Homo sapiens: one gene and its partners. The protein of the gene in region 4 interacts with the protein of the main gene of each other region in a pairwise test. Each region holds a gene or a part of one and is shown on either strand. Other genes may lie near its edges. The genes, in order: RNF6, EMC2, CCDC102B, CCDC33, DGCR6, CINP and MAPK9.

Region 1 (4,353 bases), on a different chromosome or scaffold from region 4:
ATGGCAGCAAGAGCGTCTCCACAGAGAAGAGGCCTATTATCAGTTTATTAATGAACTCAATGATGAAGATTATCGGCTTATGAGAGACCATAATCTTTTAGGCACCCCTGGTAAGAGATGGGTAAAAGAGGAAACACCCTTTTTTCATCATTTAGATGGAAGGATTTCAAGATAAGGAGAATTGGTATTCTTTTTCCTTGCTTCTCTTTATGAAAATATAGTATATTGTTTTTGTGAGTTTAAGAACTTTTTAGTATAATAAAGTAGAAAATCACTGGCTTCTGTATTTTATAAGGTGAAAATAGGGGACATGGAGCACTATTATACAAATGCCAAACTAAGAAACAGGTTAATGTACATAATGGTGTTAAGTATTTACATATATGGTCCTATTTGTAATTTTTATACAAATAAAATATGACTTAAAACCCAATTTGAACTCATTTGGGGTATTATAATTTATTTATTCAGCTGAATTAATAGCTCCCCCCAAAGCCCAATGTGTTCCATAAAGTTTTTACAAATGAACTAATGGAAATTTGTATGTTTATATATTGTGTGTTTGTATATTGATGACCCATATAATGAAGTATTTGGGATAAAATTCAAGTAAATATTTGAAGTTTTCTCTATAAATGCTCCCTTAATTTCTTTTTAACTGACAAAAATCCACAGTTATAGCTTATAGATTCCTAAGTGTATCAACTGGCAGCACTTTACCAACTATTCAAATTAAATCTTATTTTAATAATTTTTAATAAAAGATTAATAAATGAAGCACAACCGAATTGATGCACATTTGTACCAGTTGAATATTTTTAACTGTCTTCAATTTACAGAACATATGAAAGTAATAAGACATTTGTCTTCTATAGGTTACTAAAGATTAGTCTTACCCTTCATGAGGTCTCATAAAACTTAATTCAGAATTCTTAAATGAGCAGTTTTTCATTGTTTTAGGAGAAATAACATCAGAAGAACTGCAACAGCGGTTAGATGGCGTCAAGGAACAACTAGCATCTCAGCCTGACTTGAGAGATGGAACGAATTACAGAGGTACTATGGAGTCCTTTCCATAAGGAACAGGCTTGATTGGAGCACTTGCAGAAATGAAATTCTTAGACCTTGTATAGTATGTTTGTCTTCAATTTTTTCCAGTTTTAATGTGATACTCATTCAGATAATATATATATGAGTAGTAAAGCAGTATGGTTAAGCAGTATAGGACAGAGGAATGAATGCAAAGATGTCTTAAACACACAGATTGCCTTCAGAGAGCTTTATGTAATAATATACAATTAAGTTAATTCCCAGCATGCTTCTTTTTAATCTTGGAATGTACACATTACTTTTTCTAAAGTGATATTACTTAGCTTCTAAAAATTTATATACAGAACCGTGTAGAAAGACTGAGTTAGGAAACCTGTTTTTGTTTCTTTGTTCTGTTTGATGGTTTACATATAAAAAGTTCTTATAAGGAAAGTACTATAAAAGAACTTCAAACTAAATGAAGTATGTAGAGTTAAAAGGAAAAGCCACTTTTGTGTTCCTCTTAACCAGTTCTACTTCCCTCCTCAGAGGTATTTATTAGTAGTTTCACATATTATATCAAAATCATTGTATTAGTTACCATGAAGTCTATGTAAAAACCCCAAAATGCAATGGCTCAATAAGCTAGAAGTTTCTTACTTACGTTAACAGTCCAGGGAAGGAAATCCTCTTGGAACCCACTCAGCTAACAGAATGATTCTACAACTGTGCTGTTCAGTACAGTAGCTGCTAGCCACATGTGACTATTTAAATGGAAATTAATTAAAATCAAATTAAATTTAAAATTTAGCTCATTCATACTAGCCACATTCAGGTGCTTAATAGTCACATTTGGCTAGTGGCTTCTGTATTGGACAGCACAAATACAGAACATACTCATTACTTCAGAAAGATTTATGGGGCATCACTGCTCCAGGGTACCATTTGTATGATCAAGGTAAGTCGCAACCATATCTAGGTTCTAGCTGGTAGGAAGGAGGTCCACGCACTAGCGTGAGAGTAGGATGTATCGCTTACTCTCCCATTCCATTCATGAGAACTTAGTCTCATGGTCACACCTAACTGCCAGGCTGTCCACGAGCCAATTTCCGATGCTTTTACAATGGAAGAAGAGTAGGGTAGCTTTGAGTAGGTACTTGGCAAACTCTTTCACATGCACCATCATCACTACACTTAATCAAATGTTAATCAAAGAAGGAAGTAGCATTTAAAATAATTCATGTTCACCTGCCTTTTACTCATTCTTTTTCCAAACAAATGGGAAGTGGACATTAACACATTTTATTATTTGTGTTTAGATATGTAAGTTGTACTATATAGATGCAATAATTAATACTGATCTTTTGAATATGTTTCAGTGGAAAATGTACTCATCAAATATAAAATAGCTCATCATCTCTGGAATATGGCTCAGTTGCTGTTTATTTTATTGGCATCAACAGCTGATTAATAGCTTCAACTTCAGCATTTAAAAAAGTCTTACGAGAGAGATTGCAGGAATGAAATGAAATCAGAATGATGTCATATAATAGCTATTTTATTTATTTGTTTATTTATTTTTTGAGACAGAGTCCTGTTCTGTCACCCAGGCTGTAGTACAGTGGCACAATCTTGGCTCACTGCAACCTCTGCCTCCCGGGTTCAAGCAATTCTCCTGCCTCAGCCTCCTGAGTAGCTGGGATTACAGGCGCACGCCACCATGCCTGGCTAATTTCTTTGTATTTTTAGGAGAGACAGGTTTTTACCATGTCAGTCAGGCTGGTCTCGAACTCCTGACTTCATGATCTGCCTGCCTTGGCCTCCCAAAGTGCTGGGATTACAGGTGTGAGCCACCGCGCCCGGCCTATAATAGCTATTTTTGAGTAGAACAAACTTTAAAGTTGAAGTTTGTGTAGTTAATGTGTTGATGCTTTTTATTAAGTTTTGTACTTTATATAATATCTACTGGTTATAAATGGAAAATTTAAGCTTGGCACAGTGGCAGTATCTTAGTCAAAAAAGTTTATGGGTGACACATTTCTAAATTGATTAATTGAGCAATATTAATTGAAAGTCTGATTTATACTAGATACTGCTGTAGAGGCTGGAGATGTAACAGTGACTAAAACTACAAAAATCTTTGTTTTCCTGGAGCTTACGTTCTAAATGAATAGAAAATGTATTTTATTATGTATAACAGCTAACATTTATGGGGTGGCTTTTTATGTGCCAGATATTATGCTAATTATGTTATATATAGCGTCTTATTTTATCCTCAGGATAACCCTATGAGATTGATTCTATTATTAACTCCAGTTTATAGACAAGGATCAGCCATAGAGACCTTAAGTAACTTGCCTGGTTTCTCAGCTTCACACAAAGACAAATACAGTAATGTGGTTTTAATGTTATATTCAGAAACTCACATTTCTTGATGTGTACATTTTTGGCAGCACCTGAGAAATAGGAAAAATTTCTAAGATTACAGAAATACCTAGTTGCAAAAATGACTGAGTTGGCTTTTCCAGAAAGATTCCACAAATACAGGACAAATTTTACATAAAGTTTGTCTTTGTATTTTATTGATATTACTATATTGATAAAGCAATTTAAATGTAAACTTTTGGTAGTGGACATGTTTCTCATTTGCCTTAGTATTTTGCTAGTAATGGGCAGATAGAAAGTAAGAATGAGGATTTCTCCATAGCGTTGCATAAATAGTATTTAAAGCTTTGTAACTATGTAAATAGTAATTTAATTTTTATAATATGCTTATAGTAGATATACTTTTCTTTTAGAAAGTTGTCTTTTTGCCATCTTTCATTCATTAAAATCCACAGATGTTCTTTAATTTATTACAAACTTTGTTTTTCTTACAAGTTTTCAATAAAGCTGTAAGGTGTGTCTTAGGAATTGATCTTAAGTTGATTTGCTTTGCTTTCTAGACTCAGAAGTCCCTAGAGAAAGTTCACATGAAGATTCTCTTCTAGAATGGTTGAACACCTTTCGGCGCACAGGAAATGCAACTCGAAGTGGACAAAATGGGAACCAAACTTGGAGAGCTGTGAGTCGAACAAACCCGAACAATGGAGAGTTTCGGTTTAGTTTGGAAATCCACGTAAATCATGAAAATAGAGGATTTGAAATTCATGGAGAAGATTATACAGACATTCCACTTTCAGATAGTAACAGAGATCATACTGCAAATAGGCAACAAAGGTCAACTAGTCCTGTGGCTAGGCGAACAAGAAGCCAAACCTCAGTGAATTTCAATGGTAGTAGTTCCAACATTCCAAGGACTAGGCTTGCTTCAAGGGGGCAAAA
Region 2 (4,353 bases), on a different chromosome or scaffold from region 4:
CTTTTATTCTTAGTCTCAATATGAATTTTTGGCATCATACTATTAATAATTAAAGGAACACATTTAGAAGAGAACTGTCTTTTGATAAAGTGTTTAAGGTAGAGACAAATTTTCCCTTTTCTTTTCGAGTGATAAATATATATTAGGTAGGTAGTCATAACACATTTGTTTTAGACATTTATTCAATCATTTGTTCAGTCTTATTAAATACCTATCATGTGTCAAGAACCAATGCTAGGTTTTGAATTTAAAAATGGAAAGGGCTAAATAGCTGCATGATCTTGGATGAGAGTACACACACACACACACACACACATACATATATATATGTGGTCCTTCATAAATCTAAAATGCTGTAATTATTAGGTAATCTGCAGGGTGTATTTTTTTTCCTCAGTCCCTTTGGGTGTGACTGCTGTACACATTTTCATGTTACCATTGACATCTTCAGTTTTTCAATGTGATGTGTAATGCATATAAGCAGCATATGTAGTGGTTGAAGAGTACAGGCTGTCTGGAGTGGCACAGCCTGGGATTCAGTTTACATCTCTGTGCCTCAGTATTCTCAGCTCTAGCATGTTGATAATAATTTCCTTCTTCCTAGGGTTTTGGTAGGATTAAATGAGTTAATACATGTAACACATTTAGAACAATGCATGACACGTAATAAGCATTTAGTAAAAGCTATTATTAGTATACATGTGTGAAACAGGAAAATAATTTTTAAAAGTATATCAGGCAGTAGTGTAAAGGTAGATCCCTTTGTATACTGGTAAATGCCAAAAATAACTTTAGGTAGCCTCTTTTTGTTGGGTAGTGTCATCACTTCCTCACTGGGAAGAAATCTTGTAACACCTGTGTTCATTAGAATTTCCTGTAGATAGTGAGGATAGTCACATGGCATTAAACGTTTAAAATATATTTAGTGAATTACAGTCACATGCTTTAAAATGTTTTTCCAGAGCTCTTTCTGGCAGTTCTCTTTCCTTAGGTTTTCAGCAAGATTTTTGTTTATTCTACCACAAGATTAAATAATAGTACAGTATATATCAAAACCAACTTGATCTGTTTTTCATGGGCTTAGAAATTTATAACTTCATTATAATTTGGTATTTGACAGTGAACTTAAGTAATGAGAGAAATCTTTGTAATAGAATATGTTGGTAAATATATGCCTGTGAAGAATTTTTAGTGAGTAGAGAATATTTAATAAAATGTTTATTTTCTCCTTACACATTAGCTGTTTGAATATTTTTTTAAATGATCAGTCAACTTCCAGAAGTTGTTTTATATACAGCTTGATCCAAGGTCTTGAAGCCCTTCTTATTAGTAGTGATGGGATGTAGTAGGAGTGACCCAGTTTTTGAAATGTAGTATCTATTGATTGTTTGCAGGCTGCTTTAAGATTTAAGCCTGTGTTTATTAATTTCATGATAAAATTTAATGTCATTGATATTTATGAATTTCAGATGACAAATACTTTATTAATAAAGCTATGTAAATTATATTGGGAATAAATTGTTTAACATGACTAAAGTTGTTTTTAAATTATTTCAAGGTTTAACTAAGATAAAAATTTGTGACTTTAAAAATTAATTTCTCCTCTTGATGTGTTTTTAGCTATGCAAAAGCAGCCTTTTGTTTAGAGGAACTAATGATGACTAATCCACACAACCACTTATACTGTCAGCAGTATGCTGAAGTAAGTGTTTTCAGAACAATGGCATATAATTTTATTTTGGTTACTATTCGGTGTTATTATGGAACTAAGAATATTTCCTTGATGTTAAGCAAGTATATAAATATTTAAAACATCTGATGAGCATTGAATTGTGGGAATAAAAGTTTAAAATTTTTAACATTGCAGTGGTAATACTGACTTAAGACATACTTAAAACAGTGAAATTCCTTGTATTTTTATATTTGTATACTATTTTCTTTCCTAATTATAAGTTATATCACATTTGTCACCACTTAATGGCTTGTGAGACATTTATAGTGATTATGATTGTTAAATCCATATTCTGGGAAATTTGTATTAAAGCCAATTGGGACATAAGTATTTATTTAATTTGCATATTATTAAGAATAGCAGTACAACTGAATGCTATAAGGCTAGAAGGACTTCATTATTAAAGAATGTCCATGCAGATTATAAAAGGACAATTCAATATTTAAGTCCACATTTATAATGCCAGTAATAGAAAATACAATGTGAGGTGAAGCATTTGCGAGGCAGCTGAAATAGAAATTATTCTGGCTTTTTATTGCGGCAGCATTTTTGTTTTAGAAACTACTCAGTCATCTCAATGTTCATAGAATAGAATAGCTTTTTTGGGGAAGGTTATGTTTGAAATTTTAGATTAGCTTTAAAAACCTTTAGGTGAATTCTTTTAACATCTTGTATTTGTTTACAGAGAATATCTGTTTCGATTACTGAATGCCTATGGTATGATGAAACCATGCTATATTTCAAAGTAGTAAAATAAACAGTTTTCAGCACTTTGCAATTTTTAACAGGTTAAGTATACCCAAGGTGGACTTGAAAACCTCGAACTTTCAAGAAAGTATTTTGCACAGGCATTGAAACTGAACAACAGAAATATGAGAGCTTTGTTTGGACTTTATATGGTGAGTTGAGGTGCATGTTTAATGTTATTTTTAAAAATCTGTCACTTAAAATCCATTTAACTATCCCCTTCAATCACTCCTCTCCTGTTTTTTGTATTTTATTGATAAGCATGTTTTTTTCTGTAATTAATTCTGAGCAATAGCTTGTGAGCCAGTTTTCTTTTTGAATGTTAACACAGCCTAGCTGTTTGACATTCTTTTTTTGTAAACTATCTTTTATATCAGAATTGAAATCTGCCCTTATAAAATTAAATAGTGACAGATAGGAAGAAAACATGATTTCTTGTTTTGATATTCTTGGGTTTATGCCCAACATTATTGTATTTCTTCCCTAAATTATAGTTGTATGAGGTATTTTTAAACAGTGCCAATAAAATACATTAGAAATCAAATCCCTAATACATCAAATTAAAACATTTTTTATGGTGTAGAAAAACAGTTTGGAAATTGTGGGAAGTATGTAATGACCTATTGTTTAGGTATGCCAAATGCTGAGCTTAGAAAAGTCAATTAATAAGAGCTGTGGGAAATAGAGGAATAATCTGCTGACCTTTAAAACATATATATAAAGTGAGCACCTCCCTACAATAAGAAACGCTGGGAGAAATAAACTTTAATATTTTATTTATCCTGTTCCTTTGACTTCTTGATGAGTGTCTTCTTGTTGCAGCTCAGTGAAAAGGAACTGAGTGAAGAAATGGAAATAGGAAGAAACAAAAATGAAACAATTTTTAAAAAGGAATGGCAAAATATGGTTAGAAGGTGGTTCAAATGAATTTCAAGAAAATTTTCCTGGATTTTAGCAAAGCCAATTGCAATGGCTTGAAAATACGCTATAGTAGAAGTATCTCTGTATCAAATAAATACTAATTTTAAAAACTAATATACAACAAATTAATAATAGCTTATACATGGCACTTCATGTGCTGGGCATTGTTCTGAGCTCTGTTTTTTATTTTAAATCAATAAATCCGCACATCAACTGTTTGAGTAGGTGCTCTCAATACTATCCTCAGGTGGTGAAACTGAGACACAGATTTAATTAATTTGCCCAAAGATGGGCACAGAGCTCCTAAATGATCGAGTTGGGTTTCCAGCCCAGGAAGTTAACTCCAGAGTTTTTCTCGTAACCACTGCATCTGCTAAAATTCATAAGAAGAAGGTAACATTAAAGTCATAGAGGTATAAAAATCAGATTTGGGGATATAGATTCTTCACTGGCAGAGAGGGAGACATAGGTGAAAGAGCCTATAGCACAGGCTGGCATAAAACAAAGGCTTAACCTTTTTTTGAATCACATGGTCATATTCTTTTAAGAGTAAAATATATTTAAGAATAGGAATCAAGTTATATCTTACTCTTCACAGTAATATATACATTTAATAATTAGCATATGATTTTGGGGTTTTATGGATTCTTTCACAGATCCCAGATTAAGAACCGCTCATTTAAATACATTTTTAAAAAGGAGAGGGTGGATCAAATTGCAGGGACTAATTAGTTCTCTGAAACACAGTTTGAAAACTCATGGTATAGTGAAAAGAGAAATGGATTAGAGATAAGGATCTTCTTTATTTCGAAGACCCATTATTTTGCTTTGGTCAAGTTAAATCTCTCTTATTGGACTTAAATTTCTTTAACCTATTAATGTAGGATGTCAGGCTAAATTATTTTTGAGTTTCCTTTTTCTATAAATATTCAATAATTCTATGATTCTGACAT
Region 3 (4,353 bases), on a different chromosome or scaffold from region 4:
TGAAATGTGCATTTATTGACACAGGGAACACTGTGGAGGAGCAGGTGTAGATGTGAGGGGAGTTCAAGTGTTTGTTTTTGAACATGTGAAATCTGAGATGCTGATTAGATATCCTTAGTGATGTTAAGTGGGCAGCTGGACACGTGAGATCCCAGAGATAAAGGAACATCTCAGGCCAGAGATATGTCTGTTAGGAAATTTCAGAAAATTAATGAATTTGAAGTCAAAGGCCTGGATGCCTTCACCCAGAGCAATTACCCCAGCCTGAAGTCTCAGTGTTGGAGCGCTTGCAGTCAGAGGTGTGAAGCTGAGACAGAATGTGGGGCAGCTACCAGGGAGTAGGAGGAGAACCATGAGAGAGGATGCCCTCAGAAGCCAAGAAAGGGAATGATGAAATGGACAATCACATACAGGGCTTCTGGTTGGCCAAGTAAAACAGGAATTTCAGGCCTGGAATTGACCATTAGATTTGCAATGTAGAAGTCACTGATTTCCTGTTTTTGTGGCAAACTAGAGTTGAAAATGATACTGCGACTTCAAGAGAAAATGAGATAAATGAAAGTGTCTTTAAAATAATTTTTATTTTAGAAAATGCCAAAGATATGGAATGGCTGCTGGGTTGGGATCAAAATCTTTTTTTTTTTTTTTATGTTGAGGGTATTATAGCATGTGCATTTGCTAATGGGAATAATCTAATCTAGAGAGAGGTACAAACTAGTTAAACAGGAGAGGAGTATATTTGAGGAGGCCATGTCCTGGAGCGGATTAGAGGAAATTAGATAGAGCATACAAATGGGAAGTTTGGTGTTAAGAACGTGGAGTAATTCTCTATAAAAACAGACAGAATAACATATGGGTATCCATTAGACACATAGATATGATGGAACCAGTGGATGGCAGTTGTCTTATAATTACATATCTTTTGTAAGTGAAATAGAAAAACCCCCGCAATCTCAACAGATAAGGCAGAGCTGAATAAGATATGAAAATTTTGAAGATAGCTAATGTATGGGATTATTCAGTAGAATGTTTGTGATTTAATCAGGGAAAAATATTAATTTCCCTATGGTAGAGTTGGCTTGGCTACATTAAAGCCCATATGAGGTTCAGAGTCAAGAAACTGAAGTGAGACCAGATAGCAATGGGTGTGTTTTCTCAAAGCCTGATCAAGAGTGTAGGTGCAGACATGGAGCAGGAAGACAGCTGTGATTCACTGACATTAGAGTTTCTAAGCAAGTAGGGTCAAGAGAATGCCAAGCTTGCTCAGAGCAATTTGTTAAAACTGGAGCACAGAATAGGGAGGAGAGAGTGGATGTGAAGCCGATGAGGAAGAGAGAAAAAACAATACAGTCCATTGACAGGAGGCCATAGCTAGGTCAAAAAAGAGAGTTATGGGGACAATAGTAAAGGGTAATCAGAGAGGTGCTTATCATTGATATGGAAAGAAATGCTAGTATGGTAATGGGATCTAGGTGCATAACCAGCCAGTGAGTGGGTGAGGTCATATTATTGGAATTAATAGGAACTGAGAGGTGAGGATGTTGTAACGACACTATATATGAAATACTTTGGACATGAAAATTTTTCTTGTCCCTGAAAACATATTCAACTTCTCCTAACCTATTAACATAATTGGTTTCATTATATAAATGTTAATACCCATTCCCATGCCAAGACTCTACAGTGTTGTCAGTGATCTCATTTACTTTTCTCTCTGCTTATGTAACATTTTGATCAGTCCTACAGACTGTATTAAAGAGCAATCTTCAGCCAGTGATCAAAGCAAGACAAAGAAGCCTTCAAATACAGCAGATTACAAGCCCATAATTTTTTTATGTGTTTATCATTTTGCCAAAATTTTGGATAAAAATAAAATTATATGTATTAATAATGTTAAGAACACATGAATTAATATTATTTTTAGGTTTTTATTTACAACTGCTGTTTTAACAATGACATACATTTTTAAAATTAATAATTATTTTTTCCCATGTTGTCTAAACAGCTTTAAATATATTTTAATGGGATGTCTCAAAGCTTAGATAAGAATGCTCAGCAAACATATCCAATTTTTAAAATGATATTCATTTTATTTTTGTATGATTATTGCAACATCACCTCTTCTGTATTATGTGGCCATGTGGAAGAGAATGAGAATGTCACATTCACTTACCTTTGAATAGCAGGCTACTTTGGTATGCATTTTTATTATCAGTAGAATATGTTTTTCAAGCATATATTTGCAAGTAATATTATTAGTAATTATCTTAATTTCCTGTATTTAGGAAACCTCTAGGTGTTAGAGACAGCAATATTGCCAAAACATTCTGAACATGTTTGAAAAAAATCAGAATGCAGTTTTCTATTTCTGTAAAATTCTCTGTGGAAAAAGAGAAGCTCTTAAAGTCTATTGGATGCTCTACAGCTATTTTGTCCAATAGAAATATAATTCAAGCAACATTTGCAATTTAAAGTAGCTACATTTAAAAAGTTAAAAAATGAACATGTGAAATTAATTTTAATAATATTTTTGATTTAATCCAATCTTTCAAAAATATCACTTCAAAATGTAATTAGTATGAAGTTATTAATGAGATAGTTTACATTTTTACGTTTCATGCTGTGTTTAATTAGTACTCACCGAACATCACAATTCAGGCGACCCTCATTTCAAGCGTTCCCTAACTACATCTGATAGGTGACTACCATTTAAGACAGCACAGGTTTAATACTCCAGAATATAAACGGTTCAAAAATATCTTCATAGCAACCATAGAATACATTTCAGGCATTGTATTTATCTCCTTGTTGAAAGGGGGAACACATATGAGTTTGAACGACCTTATCAAGGAAGAGAATTTACCTCACATTTTCTGAACCAGTGTTCTCTGGGTTCTACTATAGCTCTCATGTTATCATATTTACATACTTATGTTATTTTGATACTGAGAAGTATGTTAAAGATGGTGGCCTCTAGAAACAACTGGGACCAATATATTCTCTGCTTGCTATAATTTAAGAAAATTTACTAATTTAAGAAAATTTAACAGGTGTGAAAATCAGGCAATGATAAAAATGATAAAACTCAATTTAGGAGTCCACACAATTCTTAGTACTTTTTCTCTTTTTTTATAAATTAAATGCAATGTATAGATCTGGGAAATCATGAGATATTTAAGAAAAACAAGGAAAAAATAGAGTTTTTGAGGAAGAATTAAGATATGACGTTACAGGAATTACTTGGGAAAGAGTTGAAGACAATAATTACATGATTGGGAGGCAAAATAAAAACCAAGCAAGCTTTGAGAAATGTAAGAGTTTAATCTGGTCTTCCACTCTTTGCAGCTTTCCTTGCACATGGCGTCCATTTTCTGTTTTAGGGACTGGAAAGACAGATCTTTTGAGAAATACAAACACTGAGTATTCACTTCCTGTTATTTTGACATTTTTAATCCAATTCCTTTACTTGTCTTTACTAAGACAAACAACTATGCAAAAATGAAAGGAAACAAATGAAAACGGATCCCAGATCAATCAGCAGTTGTGTTAAGGATTCTACTTTCTAGTTAAATTTTTTATTTTCTTTATTGCTACCTTCTCCTATGTCAAAGGATGAAAACCAGAAATATAAACACTTAAAAAAAAAGATGATTGCAGAGTTGGTGGCCTCTATGTCTGAATAAATTACTAATTTATTTTGGCTAACATGGAGAAAATATGAGCAGGGATGAACGTTTCACTAGGATTTGAGCAACTAATCTTCGAATCAAAAGCTAACTTTTTTTTCTTAAGATTCCACGTCTTTTCCTTCTCAAGATTACAAACTCATCTATAAGTTTCATATTATAGATGTAACTTTCCCAGTGAAATCAACATTTTGGATCTCACTATTATAAGAAGTAGCTTACATATTGCACAACCATTCTATTTTGTTTTTCAAGTAACATATCTAAAATTGGATTACTTGTTTTATATTATATTAAGATGGAAAGAATTAGAACAAAACATGTGATGGATATTATTTTTATCTTAGAAGAGTTCATATAAATATAATAATTCTACAAATCAGATTACAGTGGCCAGGACAAAGAAGTCAGCATTTTGTCAATATATTACTAGCTGCTGTTCCTAAAATTTTTGGTGATATACTTGCATGTATTAATATTTCTCTTTGTTGCATAATAAAATAACATTTGGTTTTTGAATCATTCCATTGTTATTTCATTGCTTTTACTACTTTTTTTTTTTTTTTTTTTTTTTTTGTGAGACAGAGTCTCGCTCTTTCGGCCAGGCCGGACTGCAGTGGCGCTATCTCCGCTCACTGCAAGCTCTGCCTCCTGGGTTCACGCCATT
Region 4 (4,353 bases):
TGTCCTACAAAATCCCCATCAAGTACCTGCGTGTCTTCCACCCCTACCACTTTGAGCTGGTGAAGGTGAGTCAGAGGCCTGGGGAAGTGCCGGGAGAGCAGGTGGGAACCACCTTGAATGTCCCCAGCTATTCCCTCGGAGCAGCCCTGAGCATCCCACACCCACCCACAGCATGACAAGTCTAGGACCATGTGGGGCTCAGGAAACATGGCTCCTGGTACATACACAGGAATGGTGTCTACAAGAATTTGGAATTCTCCAAATTCATCTCTGTAAAAACAGCTGATTATTATAGGACAACTGCCACATTAAATGAATATACCAATTAAAGATAGATTTTGATTACAAAAATGTTAAAAGAGCGGATCTAAAAATCAAAGAAACACAATATTTACCGAGTACCCGCTGCTTGCACGCCCTGTGCTAGACATTTCACACCCCCTCTCTAATCCTCAAGGTAAATTACATTTTGCAGACATGGGACTGGGACCTGGGGAGAAAAATCTCCTCCTCCTGGGTCACAGAGCAAGTGAGCGGCAGAGTTGAGGGTGAGCCCAAGTCATGCTGTCTCCCAAGCCAGTTCCTTCTGAGCTGCCTCCACATGCTGCCTTGGCCAGAAGGCCCAGGAGAGTTGGGGGGTACATGGAATAAAGCATTCCCTGGAATGCACCCCTGGAGTGAGCAACTGGGTCCAAGCCATGGACTGAGGGGCCTGAGGCTCCTCACTCCAAGGTTGGGCCTCCCAGGCCAGACCCCTGCCTGTCCTCCCTCCTAGTGCTGAAGGGTAAGGGGTAGAATTCACTCTCTCATTGCTCAAGGACTTATGAAGCACCTACTATGTGCCAGGTAGTGAGCCAGAGATGAACAGAAGCATCACATTCCCCTCCCCACTGTGCATTCCAGACCCTGAAAGTGGTTGAGAGTAAAGAACAATGTGAAGCCAGACTGTCGGGGGTCCTAGACCAAGTTTGTTGCCTCCTAGCTGGATACCCATGGAAGCCACTTGGTCCCCAGGCCTCCATCCTCACTGGCAAAGCTGGCACAGTCGTTTTGAGGATCTCAAGCAATGATAGGCAAGGTTCCTGGCATACAGTAGGTGCTCAGTTTGGTCAGTTACCCTCCCCCATCCCTCCTCCGGGCCAGCACTGAACTTTCTTCTAAGCATTTCTTCAATCATGGCACCAGGGGGCTTTACCTTCTCTTAGGCCCCATGAGGAACCCCAATCCCAGGGCTTCAGGATGGGCCATGCAGGGAAGTAAAAGAGAGATGTGCTACTCACCCTGGGAGACTCAGCACTTGAGCTGTAATTCTGGGGGCATCACCCAGGCCCCCTGGCTGTCTGTTCACTTACAACCCAGGCCTTGTTATCACATCTTTACTGGAAAGCAGACAGGCAGTGGTCCTTGTGAGGGTGATGAAATATTCAAATGGAAAAGGGAAGATTTATTATATTGATCTCCTTGGAAGGGCTCACAGGGACCATGAGCTTTAATTATCAGCTCGGAGCCCCAGCGGAGCAATGCCAAGTGATTGTCTGCAGAGGGCTGGATTTATGGCCAGGATCTGCCCCTTAGACACTCTCCTTCCTCTGTGTCTTCTGCCCCAACCCTGTCTCCAGCCCACTGAGTCTGGGAAAGCCGATGAAGCCACTGCCAAGACCCAGTTGTACGCAACAGTCGTTCGGAAGAGCAGCTTCATACCCCGCTACATCGGCTGCAACCACATGGCTCTGGAGGTACCAGGGCTGGGGCCCTCTGGGGTGGTGGTGGGGGTGGGAAAGGGCCAAGCTTTGAGCAGGCCCCACGCCTTGCCCTTAGCCCCCTCTGGCTGACCTGAGGGTGTGGAGCAGAGATGTCAAGAATGGAAAAAGCAACCAGGCCTTTCCAAAATAGCAAAAGGAGTTGTGAAGACAAGCCCTTTGGCAGGGATGACAAGGATGAAGATGCTCAAGCCTCTTCTCCTTCCCTCTCTGTCTTGGAGGTGGCGGGGAGGGGCTCAGCCACACTGCTGCTCCTGGTGTACCGTCTCTGTGCTGCAGTGGGGACCAGAGCCTGTCTCCCCGAATCTTATGCTAGGGGCAGGGGAGAAGCCCCGTGCTCCCCCTGAGCCCACAGCCCAGCAGTTTCCTGCTCTATTCTTCCCCTCCTGGGATAGTGCCTTGGCCCCCAAGCAAAAGTTTAGGGCCTCCTTGAGCTTTCCTTCAGCACTGTGTCTAAAGAGGTTTGACTGGTCTGGCGATTAGGTATTTAGTTTATTCATTCATTTATTCATCCAGCAACTGTTTACAGAGCCTCTTCCATTAGCCAGGACAGGGCTGAGCCCACCTTGGGCCTGGCCACTGCCCCTTGACCCATCACCATCCACCCCCTAGGCCAATTAGCAGCTTTGGGAGGAACTCTTGATGCTCAAAGCAGACATGATGCAGGGACCTGGCCCCTCTCCCATTCCCCCCAACTTTCAAACTGCCCATGGGTGACAGATTCAAATTCAGCTATGGCCTGAGTATGATCAGGGTGGGAGCCACAGGACCCAAGCTCTGAGCTTCCACCTACCCAAACATGGCTGATCTGTTCCTATCCTTCCCACCCCCCTACTTCCCACCAGCACCGTGGGCCTGGCAGGGAAGGAAGCATTCTTTTGCCTTCTTTCACAGCCAGGGACACTGAGACCCAAGGGGAGTATGGTATGGGAGCCAAAACTCCTAACCCACATTTCTACTCCCCTACAGCCACCCCTCTGATGCCAGCATATCAGACCTACAGGCGCCCTCTGCTCCCCGCCACCTTCTATCACGCCCTTTCCTGAGGACAGCCAGCAATTCACACACACACAGAACAAGGAAGAGGGGCAACAGCCTGGCCTTGCTGTCCCCAGGCCGCACCCCACAGGGAGGAGGCCACATCCCCAAGACACAGGCAGAACTTTAGGGCTGCTGTGGAGCTGCCCCACCCCACCCAGCCCTCTGACTTGCCTGGTAGAGCGGTAGAGTAGGGGCCTTCTCTGGCTCACAGCACCCTGCCCACTCTCCTGCCCCAGCACAGATGCCCTCTCCATCCGTGCGACAGGTATGGCCACAGAGCAGCTGCCTGCTCCTGATGGTGAGCGCATGGCAGGAGCAGGAACTTCTGCTACTTCCCAGGCTGTCATGAGCAGGTGTACTTGGGCAGCTGTCTCATTCACACCTGATCAGAGTCCACACAGAACAGGTGCAAATTAGCTGCCACCACCCCCTTTTTAGTCTTACACCTGCTGGGGAGCCTGTGAGCAATAGGGCCTGCCAGCCTCCAGTGAAATCCCTCAGCCCCAGACCCCAGACCCATCCAAAGTGTGAAATGTACCATCAGAGATTCAATCCTTTGAATGTGATGAAGGGATTCAGTCTCCAGAGCCCTCAGTGAGAGCTGCGAGGCCCTAAGGACTATTGTACGTGCCCATCAGCTCACACCTGTGTGGGGTTAGAGGTGGGAAAACCAGCTGAGATGGGTATTGAAAGAGGAGCCTGAAAGGAGGGTGCGGAGGGAGAAAAGGGAGAATGATCCAGAACAAGCCTCACTCCTGGGCCCTCGCCAGCCACAATGGGTTGGTGGGAGCTGCAGGGAGTCTGAGTAGAGGGATCAGCATGTGCAAAGACCCTGTGGCAGAAATAAGAGGGGTAAGTGGCAGGAGTAAAAGAGTCTGGAGCAAGAAGACAGGGGCTGGGGGCCTGTCGGGAGACACGGCAGAGGGGCTTGTGGGGTGTCGGGCAGGGAATAACGTGACCCAGTTCATTTTTAACAAGAGCACTTTTGCCATCATGTGTCAAATTGCCTGGGAAAGAGGATGGATTAGGGAAAGGAACAGAAGTGGAGAGGCTAGTGAGGAGGCAGAGGAATCGAAGGAGCAAGAGGAATGAGAGCCGAGTGGGAGGTGGGTGAGGGCTGAGGGAGAGTGGGAGCCATTGGTGGATACAGGGTGAGGGTCAGGGTCCGGGAGATCAGGGCCTCTTAGGCTGGCAGCAGAGGCGCATGGGGACAGACTCCCTGTCTCCCCTGTCTGCCTTCCAGTGTCCCCCAGGCCCAGACTGAGCAGGGGGTCAGTGAGGGTTGGAGCAAGGTGACGCTGTCCACTCCTGCTTTGTAACCTCCTGCTGGGACCCCGCTCGGCTCTCTGAAAGCTGCGCCAATAGAAGCCTGGAGTAGAGGAGAGGGCAGTCAGGACTGGGAGGCAGGGAAGCCTTTAGGGGGTGACAGAGGACTGAGGAGGGAACAACCAAGGGCGGTCAGGGGAGTGACAACCGGGATCTGATGAAGAAAGAGGAGCCCAGAGATGCGGATGCTATGATCCTGTTCCAAACCAGTACTTCCTGGGGAAAC
Region 5 (4,122 bases), on a different chromosome or scaffold from region 4:
CAGCAGGCATGCCTGCGTTGACTTTCTGCTTCTCCTGCTGATTTGGCAGGGGTGACTGGCTGCTCCTGCCTCCTTTGTGTTCCCGGTCGTGTCTAAGGCCAGGCCCCTTCTGCCCAGGCAGCCGGCGTGGCTCTCTTCTTGCCTTTTGGTTGCATATCTAGTGGAATCTCGTAGTGGACCTGGCACTTGTAGCAATGTTTGATCAGTAGAGTGAAGATGATGACATTTCCCTGCTTCCCTGTGTTATGGAGCTGTCTTGAGGGGGGCTTTTGGTAAATACCATCGTCGAGGTGTGTACAGAATGCCAAGAAACAGGAGATTGGGGAAGGCTGTAGGCACAGCTGGAGCCAGGCTACCTGCAGGGGAGCCTCAGGGGCCGTGGAGTTCCCTGGAGACTTGCCACCAGAGAAGAGCTGCAACATCAGGGCTCTTCCCAGGAACAGAGTGTTGGATTTCACGTTTTGTTGTGGCCAGGGACCCCTCCTTCCTGGGGAACTGTAGCCATTTGGCACTTAATGCACTGGCGCCAGCTGCGGGGTGCTCCATGTTCCATTTTGCCATGATGGTTTATGTCCCATGATCGCTTCCTCTGTACACTCCCTTCAGACTAGAGTTTGCACATCTGTGTTTGTGCACAGTTTAGCAGGGACCGTGGAGCTTTGCTTGGTGGCCGAGGGTGAGCCCCTCAAAGCCACACAGACTCCCTGGCCCAGAGCCTCACAGGCTTATGACACCCCAGGTTCATCCCAAACTTGGGCCTCCCAGGTCAGCTCACCCTTCTCCCTCTGGTGCTGTGTAGGGGCTGGGAGCTGCAAATGGGGGAGGGGGCTGCCCACCCTGAAGGGCAGCACCAAGGGTGGAGGGGCCAACCACACACCTGGTAGGCAGAGGCCCCACGCTCAGGGTCAGCGACCCGGCTCCTCCTGCTCCTTTCCCATGCCTTTGCCTGAGGTGGTCTCCAACACTTGAGTAGATGTCCTATGGCCTGTGGCCACGGGGGCCCTGAAGCCCTCAGACTGCAGCCTCCCTCCCGCCTGCCCCCTCCAGCTGCCCTGGGTCTGGGGCTGCAGCTTTGGCCCCACCTGGCCAGTCTTCCCCACCCCCACTCTCTTTCAGTGCCCCGCACCTTCTGGAATCCCCTGGAGACTTGCCGTGACAGTGGGGTGGGAGGATGGAGGAGGCTGGCGTCCTCCCCAGTGCAGACACCCCTTTGGCCTGGCTGCTCTGCTGGGTTGGTAAGGCAGGTGCCCATGGGTGAGGGCTGCTGCCGAGTCCCACCGCCTGCTGACGGGCTCTCATCCCTCCCAGTGCTCAGGCAGGCGCTGCGGCAGAAGCACCAGGAAGCCCAGCAGGCCTGCCGGCCCCATAACCTGCCTGTGCTTCAGGCGGCTCAGCAGCGAGAACTAGAGGTACTGGGGACGCAGGCAGGGTGGCCGGCCCAGCTCTCCTGTGGGCACCACCTGGCTCTGCTGACTGGGCTGAGCTGAAGGGGTGTGGGGGGCTCAGGTGTGGGTGGCTACCCTGGGCCTGAGTGGGACACTGGAGGCCTAGTGAGTCCCACCAGGTGGCTCCTCGCTGAGGGTGCCAGGTGTGCTGGGACTGGGTGGAGGGTGAGAACCCACCAGTGCTCCCCTGGAGTCCATTAGTGCCCCTCGTGGGTTGGGGTCTCCGCAGAGCAGGTGGCCTCGGGGGGTACAAAGGCAATGGTGGGGTGATGGGGCCAGCCAGGAAGGGGCCCATCCTTCTCCCCGGGAGCACAGGGACAACCAGAGACCGGCATGTAACCAACAAGTCATGGGGCAGGGTGTGCCTGCGGAGATGTGTGTGTGGTCCCAAGGCAGTCCCAAGTCAAAGCATTCGTGGAAGCCCCTTGGGGCCCCCTTCAGGGGTTCACTTGGCCGAGGAGAGGCCTGGGTGTGGTGAGGATGCATTGGTGGTGTCAGAGCTGGTGCTGTTGGGGACAGCAGCAGGAGCATGTGTTTGAGCTGCCCTCACCTCCCCCGCCGCCCCCGGCCCCACGGCAGGCGGTGGAGCACCGGATCCGTGAGGAGCAGCGGGCGATGGACCAGAAGATCGTCCTGGAGCTGGACCGGAAGGTGGCTGACCAGCAGAGCACACTGGAGAAGGCGGGGGTGGCTGGCTTCTACGTGACCACCAACCCACAGGTCAGTGCCTGGGCCTGCTCTGTCCTAGCCCGAGTGCCCCTGGGCCCCATTCCATCTGGGATTTCACTGCTGGTCCCTGGGGAGCCAGGCTCAGGGTATAGGGGGTGAAGTGGAAGGATTGAGGCTCTGGAAAGGATTTCTGTGCCATTCCCAGCATGGAGGCCAGGCCCATTCCCTACAGGGGGGTGAGCCAGCCAGCCATGGGCACTGCCCACCCTCCCCAGGCCTGCTGTGCCCCACAGGGCCCTCTTCTGCTCCCCTCCCGCATGCCATTCCAAGTGGCCCTGCTGGGTGCAGAGGCTCAGATTCCGAGTGGCCCTGCTGGGGGCAGAGGCTCAGATTCCGAGTGGCCCTGCTGGGGGCAGAAGCTCAGATTCCACCCTGTCGTAGCAGGCCATGACCAGGCTTCACAGGATGGTCGCCCCGTGGGCTCACTGCCTGGCACCTTTGGGCCGGGATGAAAGGGGCCTGGGGGTCACTCTGGCCTTCATGGGGCCCCTCTGTATCCCAGGAGCTGATGCTGCAGATGAACCTGCTGGAACTCATCCGGAAGCTGCAGCAGAGGGGCTGCTGGGCAGGGAAGGCAGCCCTGGGGCTAGGAGGTCCCTGGCAGTTGCCTGCTGCCCAGTGTGACCAGAAAGGCAGCCCTGTCCCACCATAGCCACAGGCAGCAGAAGTCTGGGCAGAGTTCATCTTCTTGACCTTTGGCCACTGCCTTCCCAGCTGCCCGCAGGGGGTTCCCCCTGCTGAGGAGAGACCAGGTGGACCCCAGCTGCCTGTCACCCTTCATCTGGGACTTGCTGTCAAACCCTAGGATAGTCTCATAAAGGGGAGGCTGGGCCAGCCTGCTGCTGTCTGCTTCAGGGCCAGGCAGAGAGTGAGGCTGGGGGTTCTCACACCTTACTCCACCGGGCACATCCCAACCTGCACTGGGGCCCACTCGAGCGCTTGTTCTGGTCTCAGCCGCTCCCTTGGCAGCTGCAGCCCCCATGCAGAAGAGGCTCCCAGGCCCAAGCTCTGTGTGACCCAGAGAAATAAAGATGCCTCAGTGTGGCCCGCATGTGGCTTGTGTGATAGCTGCAGGTTCTGCCATAACCGGGGCCCTGGTAGGGCCCCCACCTCTGTTGCAGCAGAGGCCTCTACCTGGGGGCCCCTTCCTGGGCTGTGTGCCCAGCCCACCACCCCTCCCCCTGCCTGGAGACTGGGACCCTCCAGCCTTTCCTGCCCCAGCCCTGGTCCCAGGATGCTGTCACTGCCATCTGTACAGGGGCCCCCATCCAAGCCCCAGGGCATGAGGACCACATCCAGCCTGCTTTGTGGGGCTGGGGGCTGGAGAGCATGGGAGAAGGCCCGAAGTGCAAGTATGCGCCTGCCGCAGCCTGGTCAGTGTCCTGTGGGAACCACTAGGAGGAGCCTGATGCAGGTCACTGGGGTAGAGGACTCAGGGTGGCAGGAATGGCCTGAGGAGGAGCCCTGCGGGGAGGCGTGCCAGGCCCACCTGGGGAGCTTGGCCTCTGCATCTGCATGAGTCCCCTCCGTGCTGGCCTGGGCCCATGGGCCCTGCTGGGTCCTTGTGGAGTCAGGGTTGGGGGTGTCCAGCACCCTGGGTGGCCAGGTCTGCGCAGGGCCTGGCCCCCAGGAACAGATGATGCTGGAAGCCAGAGTCTGGGATGAGACTTCTCTGACCCTGTCTGAGCCACTCCCTCTTTGTTGCCCAGAGCTGACCCTGTGTGAGGGCAAAGGGCTCTCAGCTGCAGGAACAGTGGTTTATTGACCAGGCAGGCCTCCCCAGCCCGGCCACTGCTCCCCAAGGGGCTCGGGCTGTGTGGGCTGGCCTTGGCAGAAGGTGGACAATCCTCTAGGTCCAAGGACATGGGGGTCACAGAGGTGGGGGCCTTGGGCCCACACATTCGAGGAGAGTTCCCAAAAGTTTCCAGTGGCTGTCCCAGGCAGGTAT
Region 6 (3,407 bases), on a different chromosome or scaffold from region 4:
ATTCTGCGTGGGAGATTTGTTCCCTCCCTCCCATTTGTTAATTTTTTTTTTTTTTGAGATGGAGTTTCACTCTTGTTGCCCAGGCTGGAGTGCAGTGGGGTGATCTCTGCCCACTGCAACCTCTGCCTCCTGGGTTCAAGTGATTCTCCTGTCTCAGCTTCCCAAGTAGCTGGGATTACAGGTGCCTGCCACCACACCCAGCTAATTGTTGTATTTTTATTTGTTTTTTTTTAATTTTTGTTTTGGCCAGGCGCAGTGGCTCATGCCTGTAATCCCAGCACTCTAGGAGGCCGAGGCAGGTGGATCACCTGAGGTCAAGAGTTTGAGACCAGCATGGCCAACATAGTGAAACCCCATCTCTACTAAAAATACAAAAAATTAGCTGGGGGTGGTGGCAGGTGCCTGCAATCCCAGCTACTTGGGAGGCTGAGGCGGGAGAATCACTTTCGGAGGTTGCAGTTAGCCGAGATCAAGCCACTGCACTCCAGTCTGGGCCACAGAGTGAGACTCCGTGTCAAAAAAAAGAAAAAAAGAAAAAGAAAAGTGGTTTGGGAATAAGTTCTCATTCTATGTTCAAAACCAAAAGTTGATTTTATAGGGTATTATTATTTTTCCTATTTTCCTCTATCCGTTATAGAGAATGGTTTCCAGACCTGGTCTGTGTCTTTCATAACTTTGACCTTCTGGGGGTTTCATGCACCGTTCTTCCTAAGCTGGGCTAACATTTCACTGTGGTCTGTGTTTGCTGTGGGAAGAAGCCACCGATGTTGAAATGTAAGGGCCTGCTGTTTATGCACTGTTCATTCAGGGCTGCACGTGCCTATGTGACTTGAATTCTTTATTGATGGCTGAGCTGCAGGATTGAGCATGACTTCTTGCCTGGGGTCAAGGCTCCAGAATTTTCCTTAGTCTCCTGTTATCAGCTTTTCTTAGAATCAGGTGGCACCAGGGAGCTGCTGCAGGACTCACAGGAAAGAGCAGAGGATTGGGTGTTAAAACTTGGTGTCGGCTGGGCGCGGTGGCTCACGCCTGGAATCCCAACACTTTGGGAGGCTGAGGTGGGCGGATCACAAGGTCAGGAGATCGAGACCATCCTGGCTAACACAGTGAAACCCCAGCTCTGCTAAAAGTACCAAAAAAATTAGCCAGGCACAGTGGCGGGCGCCTGTAGTCCCAGCTACTTGGGAGGCTGAGGCAGGAGAATGGCATGAACCCGGGAGGCGGAGGTTGCAGTGAGCGGAGATCGCGCCACTGCACTCCAGCCTGGGTGACAAAGCGAGACTCTGTCTCAAAAAAAACAAAAACAAAAACAAAAACAAAAAAACTTGGTGTCAGAAGGCATGGTATCGAGTTCTGGCCTCATCCTTCCTCAGCTCAACCTTAAGCAATTTCCCAGCTGTGAAACGGAAATGACAAGTCCTGCCTCTTGGGGTTGGGCCAAATAAAATATCAAACCTTAAAAGATTTGGGAAACTACTTAAGTAAAGTCCTTTAAAAATTAACGTTAGCTGAATTTAGTGCTTGCCACTTCCAATGTAATTGGAGGGTGGTTGGAAGGACCAAGTAAAGGAATTAAGATATTTGACAATTTATATATCTTTTCTTATTTCCCCTTTTTCATATTTATGTATGTAAAGTCAACTATACTTAGGAGTTCAAAATTTGGTCTTTATAGACCTATGCTACTTAAATCTGAAATCCTAGTTACTTCACCCATTAATTTTCTTTATCCAACCCTTATATATCTCCAAGTAGGTGCTTCACAAATACTAACTCACTTAATCCTCTTCACCAAGCTGTGAAAGTAAGCCCGCCATTGCCCCTATTCTGTGCTGCCTGGTGTGTGCAGTGGGGTTGGTTTAGTGTCTCCCACAAGTAGCCATACACATCATGCAGTTACAGGGCTTAGGACAGAGCCTGGTCCACACTGAGGGACCGTCAATGGCAGCTTGCCACGTTTCCTTCCTTTCTGCGTGAAGTGTGTAGGGCTCCCTTTCTGTGTTGCCATTTTATAAACAAGGAAGTCAAGGAGGTTTCCGTAAATAAAGGCAGTTAATAAGAGAGAGTCAGGCCTGGTGCGGTGTCTCATGCCTAGAATCCCAGCACTTTGGGCGGCCGAGGTGGGCGGATCACGAGTTCAGGAGATCAAGACCAGCCTGGCCAACATGGTGAAACCCCGTCTCTACTAAAAATACACAAATTAGCTGGGCGTGGTGGCACATGCCTGCAATCCCAGCTACTTGGGAGGCTGAGGCAGGAGAATCGCTTGAACCAGGGAATCAGAGGTTGTAGTGAACCGAGATCTCGCCACTGCACTCCAGCCTGGCACTGCACTCCAGCTTGGCAACAGAGCAAGACTCCGTCTCAAAAAAAAAAAAAAAAAAGAGAGAGAGAGAGAACATCAGAAACGAGCTCATTTGATAGAGAGACAGAGAGCCTCAGAAACGAGCTCATTTGATAAAAGAGAGAGAGAGAGAGCATCAGAAACGAGCTCATTTGATGCCTTTCTCTCTCACTTCTTAAAAGCAGCAAGAGCCAGCCAGGCGCGGTGGCGCATGCCTGTATAATCCCAGCACTTTGGGAGGCTGAGGCGGGAGGATTGCTGGAGCCCAGGAGTTAGAGACCAGCCTGGGCAACATAACGAGACCCTGTCTCCACAAATTAAAAAAAATTAGCTGGGTGTGGTGGTGCACACCTGTGATCCCAGCTACTTGGGAGGCTGAGGTGCCAGCGGTTGAGGCTGCATAAGGCATGATCATGCCACACAGAATGAGACCCTGTCGCAAAAAAAAAAAGAAAAAAAAAAAAAGGCAGCAAGAGCCTGCCTTGGGATTCCTCCAGGTCTTTGGGTCTAAGACATTAATGCTGTTTGGAAATCCTAGTGAAATGGCACTCGGAAACCTTTCTTGCTCTAGGACTGGAAATCTGGGGTTTATTACCAAAGTCATTCAAATTAATGAAATCATAGCAACTGTCCACCTTCATCTCCCTGGGAATTTGCTGTACGTAGAGTTAACAGTGTTTAGTTATTGGAATTTTTATCATAATAGACTTACACTTCTTAGCTTTGAAATCTTAGAGTTATTAAATCTGAGACTGGAGATTTCAAATAATATTATCATATTCCAAATGGATATCTTTCAGACCAAAATACAGGTGAAAATGGAAAAGCTGTCTTCAACTACCAAGGGAATTTGTGAACTAGAAAACTACCATTATGGGGAGGAGAGTAAACGACCCCCTCTGTTCCACACGTGGCCTACAACCCATTTCTGTAAGTAGTTCCTTCTCAGTTGATTTTCAGGAGGGTAAAGGTTATTAAGGGCATTTAGTATCGTTTACATCTGGTACTTTAAGAAGCTGACAAGGCTTTCAAATTCAATGCAAAAGTATCGGGAGGAAAGGAG
Region 7 (4,353 bases), on a different chromosome or scaffold from region 4:
ACGCCGAGGCAGGCGGATCACGAGGTCAGGAGATCGAGACCATCCTGGCTAACACGGTGAAACCCCATCTCTACTAAAAATACAAAAAATTAGCCGGGTGTGGTGGCGGGCACCTGTAGTCCCAGCTACTCCGGAGGCTGAGGCAGGAGAATGGCGTGAACCCGGGAGGCGGAGCTTGCAGTGAGCCGAGATAGTGCCACTGCACTCCAGCCTGGGAGACAGAGTGAGACTCCGTCTTAAACACACACACACACACACACACACACACACACACACAGCTGGTACTCATCTCTCTGGAATGCTTCTAGTCCTTTTAAGCAGAGAAAAGAAAGTGAGCCACTGAGTGTCCTTCCACTCCTGTGGTATTAAGTACTAAACAGCCTGAAGTGCTTCAAACACAGACGTCAGATGAACTTGGCTCATCCCAGGCACAAAGCCACAAGCACCATGAATGACGTTAAGTAACATGACTAAGGCTGACTGGTGAATTCTCCTGGCCACGCCTCATGAGAAAACAATTACACCAATACTCTGAATTGGACCTGCATATTGGTGAAGTCAAAACTTACTGCCATTAGTTTTGAAAACACAGATTTAGGAATTTGCAGAATATTTTCAATAAGAGAACAAACAGCAATGTTTCTGCCTCTCAGTGTGAAACCTCTTGCTAATATTGATCAAAAGCATGACACTTTATCATCTATCTGTGTTCATGTTAAATCTGTCATCAGAGATGGTGATGGAGAAATATCTAATTGCCATGTAAAAACACACAAAAATTGGACATGCTATACATTTATCTTTTAAAATGTAGTCTGTATTATTTTCACCAACCAAAACACACATAATATATTTTATTATAAAACATTAGCAATGTTACTTTTGAGATATGCAATCTGAAAGGTCACACTTGTATTTATTACCAGGAGGAAATACCAGAGGAGTCACATTAGAAATCAACCAGACAGACTCGTACGTGGTTATCGCTACTTACACAGCATTAAATGCGGGTTGAAGCAGCACCCGCTCCGTGTTTCAGACACGGACTTGGGGTGGGCAAGGGGCCCTGTAAGAGGGCTTCCTCCTCTCAGTACTGGGGCTCTGCGTCTCACCTGCTCCCATCTCCAGGCCCACGGCTGACACGGTATGCACAGCCAGGGTTTCCAGACTGCTCTCCTGCTCTCACAGAACTCTGTCTGCTCTCTGGACTCTGCCCTTGAAACTGAGACCTGGACATGGGGGAGACAGTCGTTTCCTTCTTGGCTGGAAACTAAGTCAACAAATGAAACAAACCTAGTCTAAATTCCAGGATAATAGTAAATTACCTGGTTTATAAAAATACATGTCCAAAATAGTTACTTCCTGGGTTGTGTACAATATAAATTACAAAAATAAAATAGAAAAGATGAAACAGTTGAGCACATTTTTCAGTTCTTTAACCAACATCAGCATTTATCCATAGAGATCAGTTTGAAACCATTTGCGTGGCACCAAGACCCTGGCAAATCTAGGCTCAGGAGAGAGAACCCTGAAGCTGGGGTGAGGTATTTCTGTGGAGCCCTGTGGCCTGTCCTAGGCACGCTCGCCTCTACCTGGTGGAAGATGGCCTTTCCAGGAAACCCTCCACACCGTCACGGGCTCCATCTGTGGCAAGTGGCTCGCTGAATGCACAGAGGAGCGAGTGAGCAGAAGGGCGTCTGCGGGTGCCTCGTCCCCCGTCCACGTCTCCCGGGGAGGGAGCATCACACAGTGCAGGGCAGCTCGCGCATTTTCAACCTCTCCCTTTTGTTTTTCCTTTTAAAGATAGATTTAGTGAAGTCTTTTAAAAGAAAGTGTATTACAGAGAAGGCCATTTTAAGATGTTTAGATAGATAGCCATAAAATAGGTGTTTCCGCCTCAATCCAAGTTATTATTACCATTTTGTACTTGAAAGTGTCCAAATGACACAATATAAAAGAACTATTTCTTATTTCAATATTAATTTTGCTAATCAAAGGTTCCAGTTTCCAGTGATATGACCAACCAATAAGATATAACTGGTGCAGAGAGAGCCATATATTTTACATAATATTTATAATAAACTTTCTTATCACAGTTCCTCCTCAGAACACACTCTACAGAATGTCGACTGAAAAGCTTCCAAAATAATTGAACACAAGATATGAATCAGCAACAGAATAAGCTCAAGGGAAGAGACATGGGCACAGGCAGGCAAAACGTGATCACCACAGCTCCGTTCCTGCAGTGACACTTAACATACTCAGCATCTTCATGAATTCTGAATAATTTACTGATCGTAAAGTCTAAAAGTATCAATTTCAGGTGAGCAGTTTTAAATCAGAAAATAGTCAATAGTTAATCATGACTCTTCAGGGTATTTCCTTCACGTCCTCTGAAGAGTTTCCCAGAACATTCTTGTGAAAAGGAATGCCTCCCAACAATGGAGAGCAACAATAGCAACAGGCATCTGAATCAGCCTGGCCTCTGAAAACAGACCAAAGAGGAGTTTATCTGCTTTCTTCCAGTGAAGAAAGAAAATCAAGAACGTGGTATTGGCCGAGGGAAAGTGAATGAGGGAAGGTAAATAAAGGACCCAGGCCAGTCTGTGGCAAAGGAAGCACTTAGGAAATGACTGCAGTGATCTCTAGTGAGCATTTTGTAAAATTCCACTCCAACGTTAGGCCATGGATGCAGGAACCTATCTGCCATCATATTTAATTAAGATGGAGTGTTACGCACCTAATAAAGAAGGTGAAGTTCTAGGTAGCATTTTAAATTCATAAGAAGTCTAGAAGACCAAGAAGAAAAGAGATAAGGTAGCTAGGATTTCAAGCAGCACTAAGCAAAACTTAAAATTGTATCGTGCAGTAAAGCTGAATGTACAATCATCCCAGACAAGACAGTTTAAAGAAAACAAGATGTCCACATAAGTGTCTTGGTTTTAGCCGTGATAATTCTCAGCCCCAAACATCACAAATCTAAGAAAAGCTATATATTTTTATTTATTAAATAGATTTAATTATATGTCTTCTGAAATACAAAAGATAGAATAAATCATAGCATAAAAGGGAATAAGATATGATAACATCATGATGGCCAATTAATACACATAAATCGACTTTTTCTGGACAGACACCAAATTACTTAAGAGGATTAAGAGATAACTTCAGAAGCAGCACTACCTGGAAGATTATTTGGCATTTAAATACTGATTTCCAAAGTGCTAGATGGGCAAGTCCAAGCAAGCATTTGTGGTCACATGCACATACATCTCAACAGTTACAGATGATGAGAAACTGTCACTAGTACAATTTGAAACAAATTCACCTACTCTAACTGCTCACCTGAAATGATCTTGAACAAAATCTCTAGAAGTGTGGCTTGCAATTTTTTTCTTCAGACATATTCTGCCTCATTTTATCATCTAAGCAGGCAATCCTATCAGGTCTGAGTAGGGCAAGGCATTGTGTTTCTTACATGCAGAACATGGAGTTTTTCTATTTGGTTCCATCAACTCCCAAGCATTTCAGGCCCACGGAGGTGAGAGTTCCTTCAATGCTGACAGGTTTGCTATTTCTAACCTATCATCGACAGCCTTCAAGGGGTCCCGTCGAGGCATCAAGACTGCTGTCTGTGTCTGAGGCCAGCGTCTGCTCAGTGGACATGGATGAAATGTCATTGATCGATGAAGACTGAGAAGGAGTGGCGTTGCTACTTACTGCTGCATCTGTGCTAAGAAAACCAAATATAATAAAATCTGAGGCACGACATTGCTGCAAATCCAGGCAGCGAGACTGCAGGCCATTTCTCGGCTCTGTCCTTTTGCAGTTTCCCAATCCTAACTATGAGTATAGACAAGAAGTCAGTCAGCTGGACTTTCTGAACTTTTCCTTGAGTCTTTCTTTGGGCCAAGAGTCCCATATTCCTATGTCTTTCCTTGCAAGATTCTTCTTTTTTTCTCAGTAGCTAAACATATATGTGGCCATGTATAATCATGTTAGCTACTTAAAAAATACCTGCTGCTTTCAAGCAGACATCAAAAGGACACAGCTATATTTATCTGAAAATGCAGTATCACAAAAGCTTAAGCCTGACTAGGATTCCAGTGTCACCAGACACTTGAATTGTAACAATTTATAACATAAACACTAAATCTACAGGAAAAAAAGCATCAACTTTCAAAGAAATCTTTTGCAATAAATAAAGACTATATACCAGAAAAAGGAAAAAAATTAGTGGCCTTGTATATTTTATGGTTTTATAACTCCAGAAAACTGACATTTTAATCTTTTAAAGCAAATGAAACTATCCTACTTCCTACTATCCATATTTTAGTCTGGTTTGAATAAAAA

Evidence for each region.
Region 1: the proteins of CCDC33 (region 4) and RNF6 interact in a two-hybrid assay, tested with the Homo sapiens proteins (one large-scale study listed by BioGRID).
Region 2: the proteins of CCDC33 (region 4) and EMC2 interact in a two-hybrid assay, tested with the Homo sapiens proteins (one large-scale study listed by BioGRID).
Region 3: the proteins of CCDC33 (region 4) and CCDC102B interact in a two-hybrid assay, tested with the Homo sapiens proteins (2 studies listed by BioGRID).
Region 5: the proteins of CCDC33 (region 4) and DGCR6 interact in a two-hybrid assay, tested with the Homo sapiens proteins (one large-scale study listed by BioGRID).
Region 6: the proteins of CCDC33 (region 4) and CINP interact in a two-hybrid assay, tested with the Homo sapiens proteins (one large-scale study listed by BioGRID).
Region 7: the proteins of CCDC33 (region 4) and MAPK9 interact in a two-hybrid assay, tested with the Homo sapiens proteins (one large-scale study listed by BioGRID).

What each region holds. Positions count from the first base shown.
Region 1 is NC_000013.11:26,215,214-26,219,566, reverse strand, and holds part of RNF6 (E3 ubiquitin-protein ligase RNF6), read left to right. Parts: coding exon 1-110; intron 111-960; coding exon 961-1,056; intron 1,057-3,974; coding exon 3,975-4,353. UniProt on the Homo sapiens protein: E3 ubiquitin-protein ligase mediating 'Lys-48'-linked polyubiquitination of LIMK1 and its subsequent targeting to the proteasome for degradation. Negatively regulates axonal outgrowth through regulation of the LIMK1 turnover.
Region 2 is NC_000008.11:108,474,262-108,478,614, forward strand, and holds part of EMC2 (ER membrane protein complex subunit 2), read left to right. Parts: intron 1-1,620; coding exon 1,621-1,702; intron 1,703-2,520; coding exon 2,521-2,631; intron 2,632-4,353. UniProt on the Homo sapiens protein: Part of the endoplasmic reticulum membrane protein complex (EMC) that enables the energy-independent insertion into endoplasmic reticulum membranes of newly synthesized membrane proteins.
Region 3 is NC_000018.10:68,804,232-68,808,584, forward strand, and holds part of CCDC102B (coiled-coil domain-containing protein 102B), read left to right. Parts: intron 1-4,353. UniProt on the Homo sapiens protein: During interphase, forms fibers at the proximal ends of centrioles to maintain centrosome cohesion. During mitosis, dissociates from the centrosome following phosphorylation to allow centrosome separation. Contributes to CROCC/rootletin filament formation.
Region 4 is NC_000015.10:74,266,723-74,271,075, forward strand, and holds part of CCDC33 (coiled-coil domain-containing protein 33), read left to right. Parts: coding exon 1-65; intron 66-1,619; coding exon 1,620-1,736; intron 1,737-4,353.
Region 5 is NC_000022.11:18,908,864-18,912,985, forward strand, and holds the end of DGCR6 (protein DGCR6), read left to right. Parts: intron 1-1,116; coding exon of another isoform or gene 1,117-1,235; intron 1,236-1,308; coding exon 1,309-1,409; intron 1,410-2,024; coding exon 2,025-2,165; intron 2,166-2,676; coding exon 2,677-2,826; 3' UTR 2,827-3,225; downstream 3,226-4,122. UniProt on the Homo sapiens protein: May play a role in neural crest cell migration into the third and fourth pharyngeal pouches.
Region 6 is NC_000014.9:102,349,786-102,353,192, reverse strand, and holds part of CINP (cyclin-dependent kinase 2-interacting protein), read left to right. Parts: intron 1-3,144; coding exon 3,145-3,274; intron 3,275-3,407. UniProt on the Homo sapiens protein: Component of the DNA replication complex, which interacts with two kinases, CDK2 and CDC7, thereby providing a functional and physical link between CDK2 and CDC7 during firing of the origins of replication.
Region 7 is NC_000005.10:180,232,799-180,237,151, forward strand, and holds the end of MAPK9 (mitogen-activated protein kinase 9), read right to left. Parts: intron 3,734-4,353; coding exon of another isoform or gene 3,729-3,733; coding exon 3,586-3,728; 3' UTR 345-3,585; downstream 1-344. UniProt on the Homo sapiens protein: Serine/threonine-protein kinase involved in various processes such as cell proliferation, differentiation, migration, transformation and programmed cell death.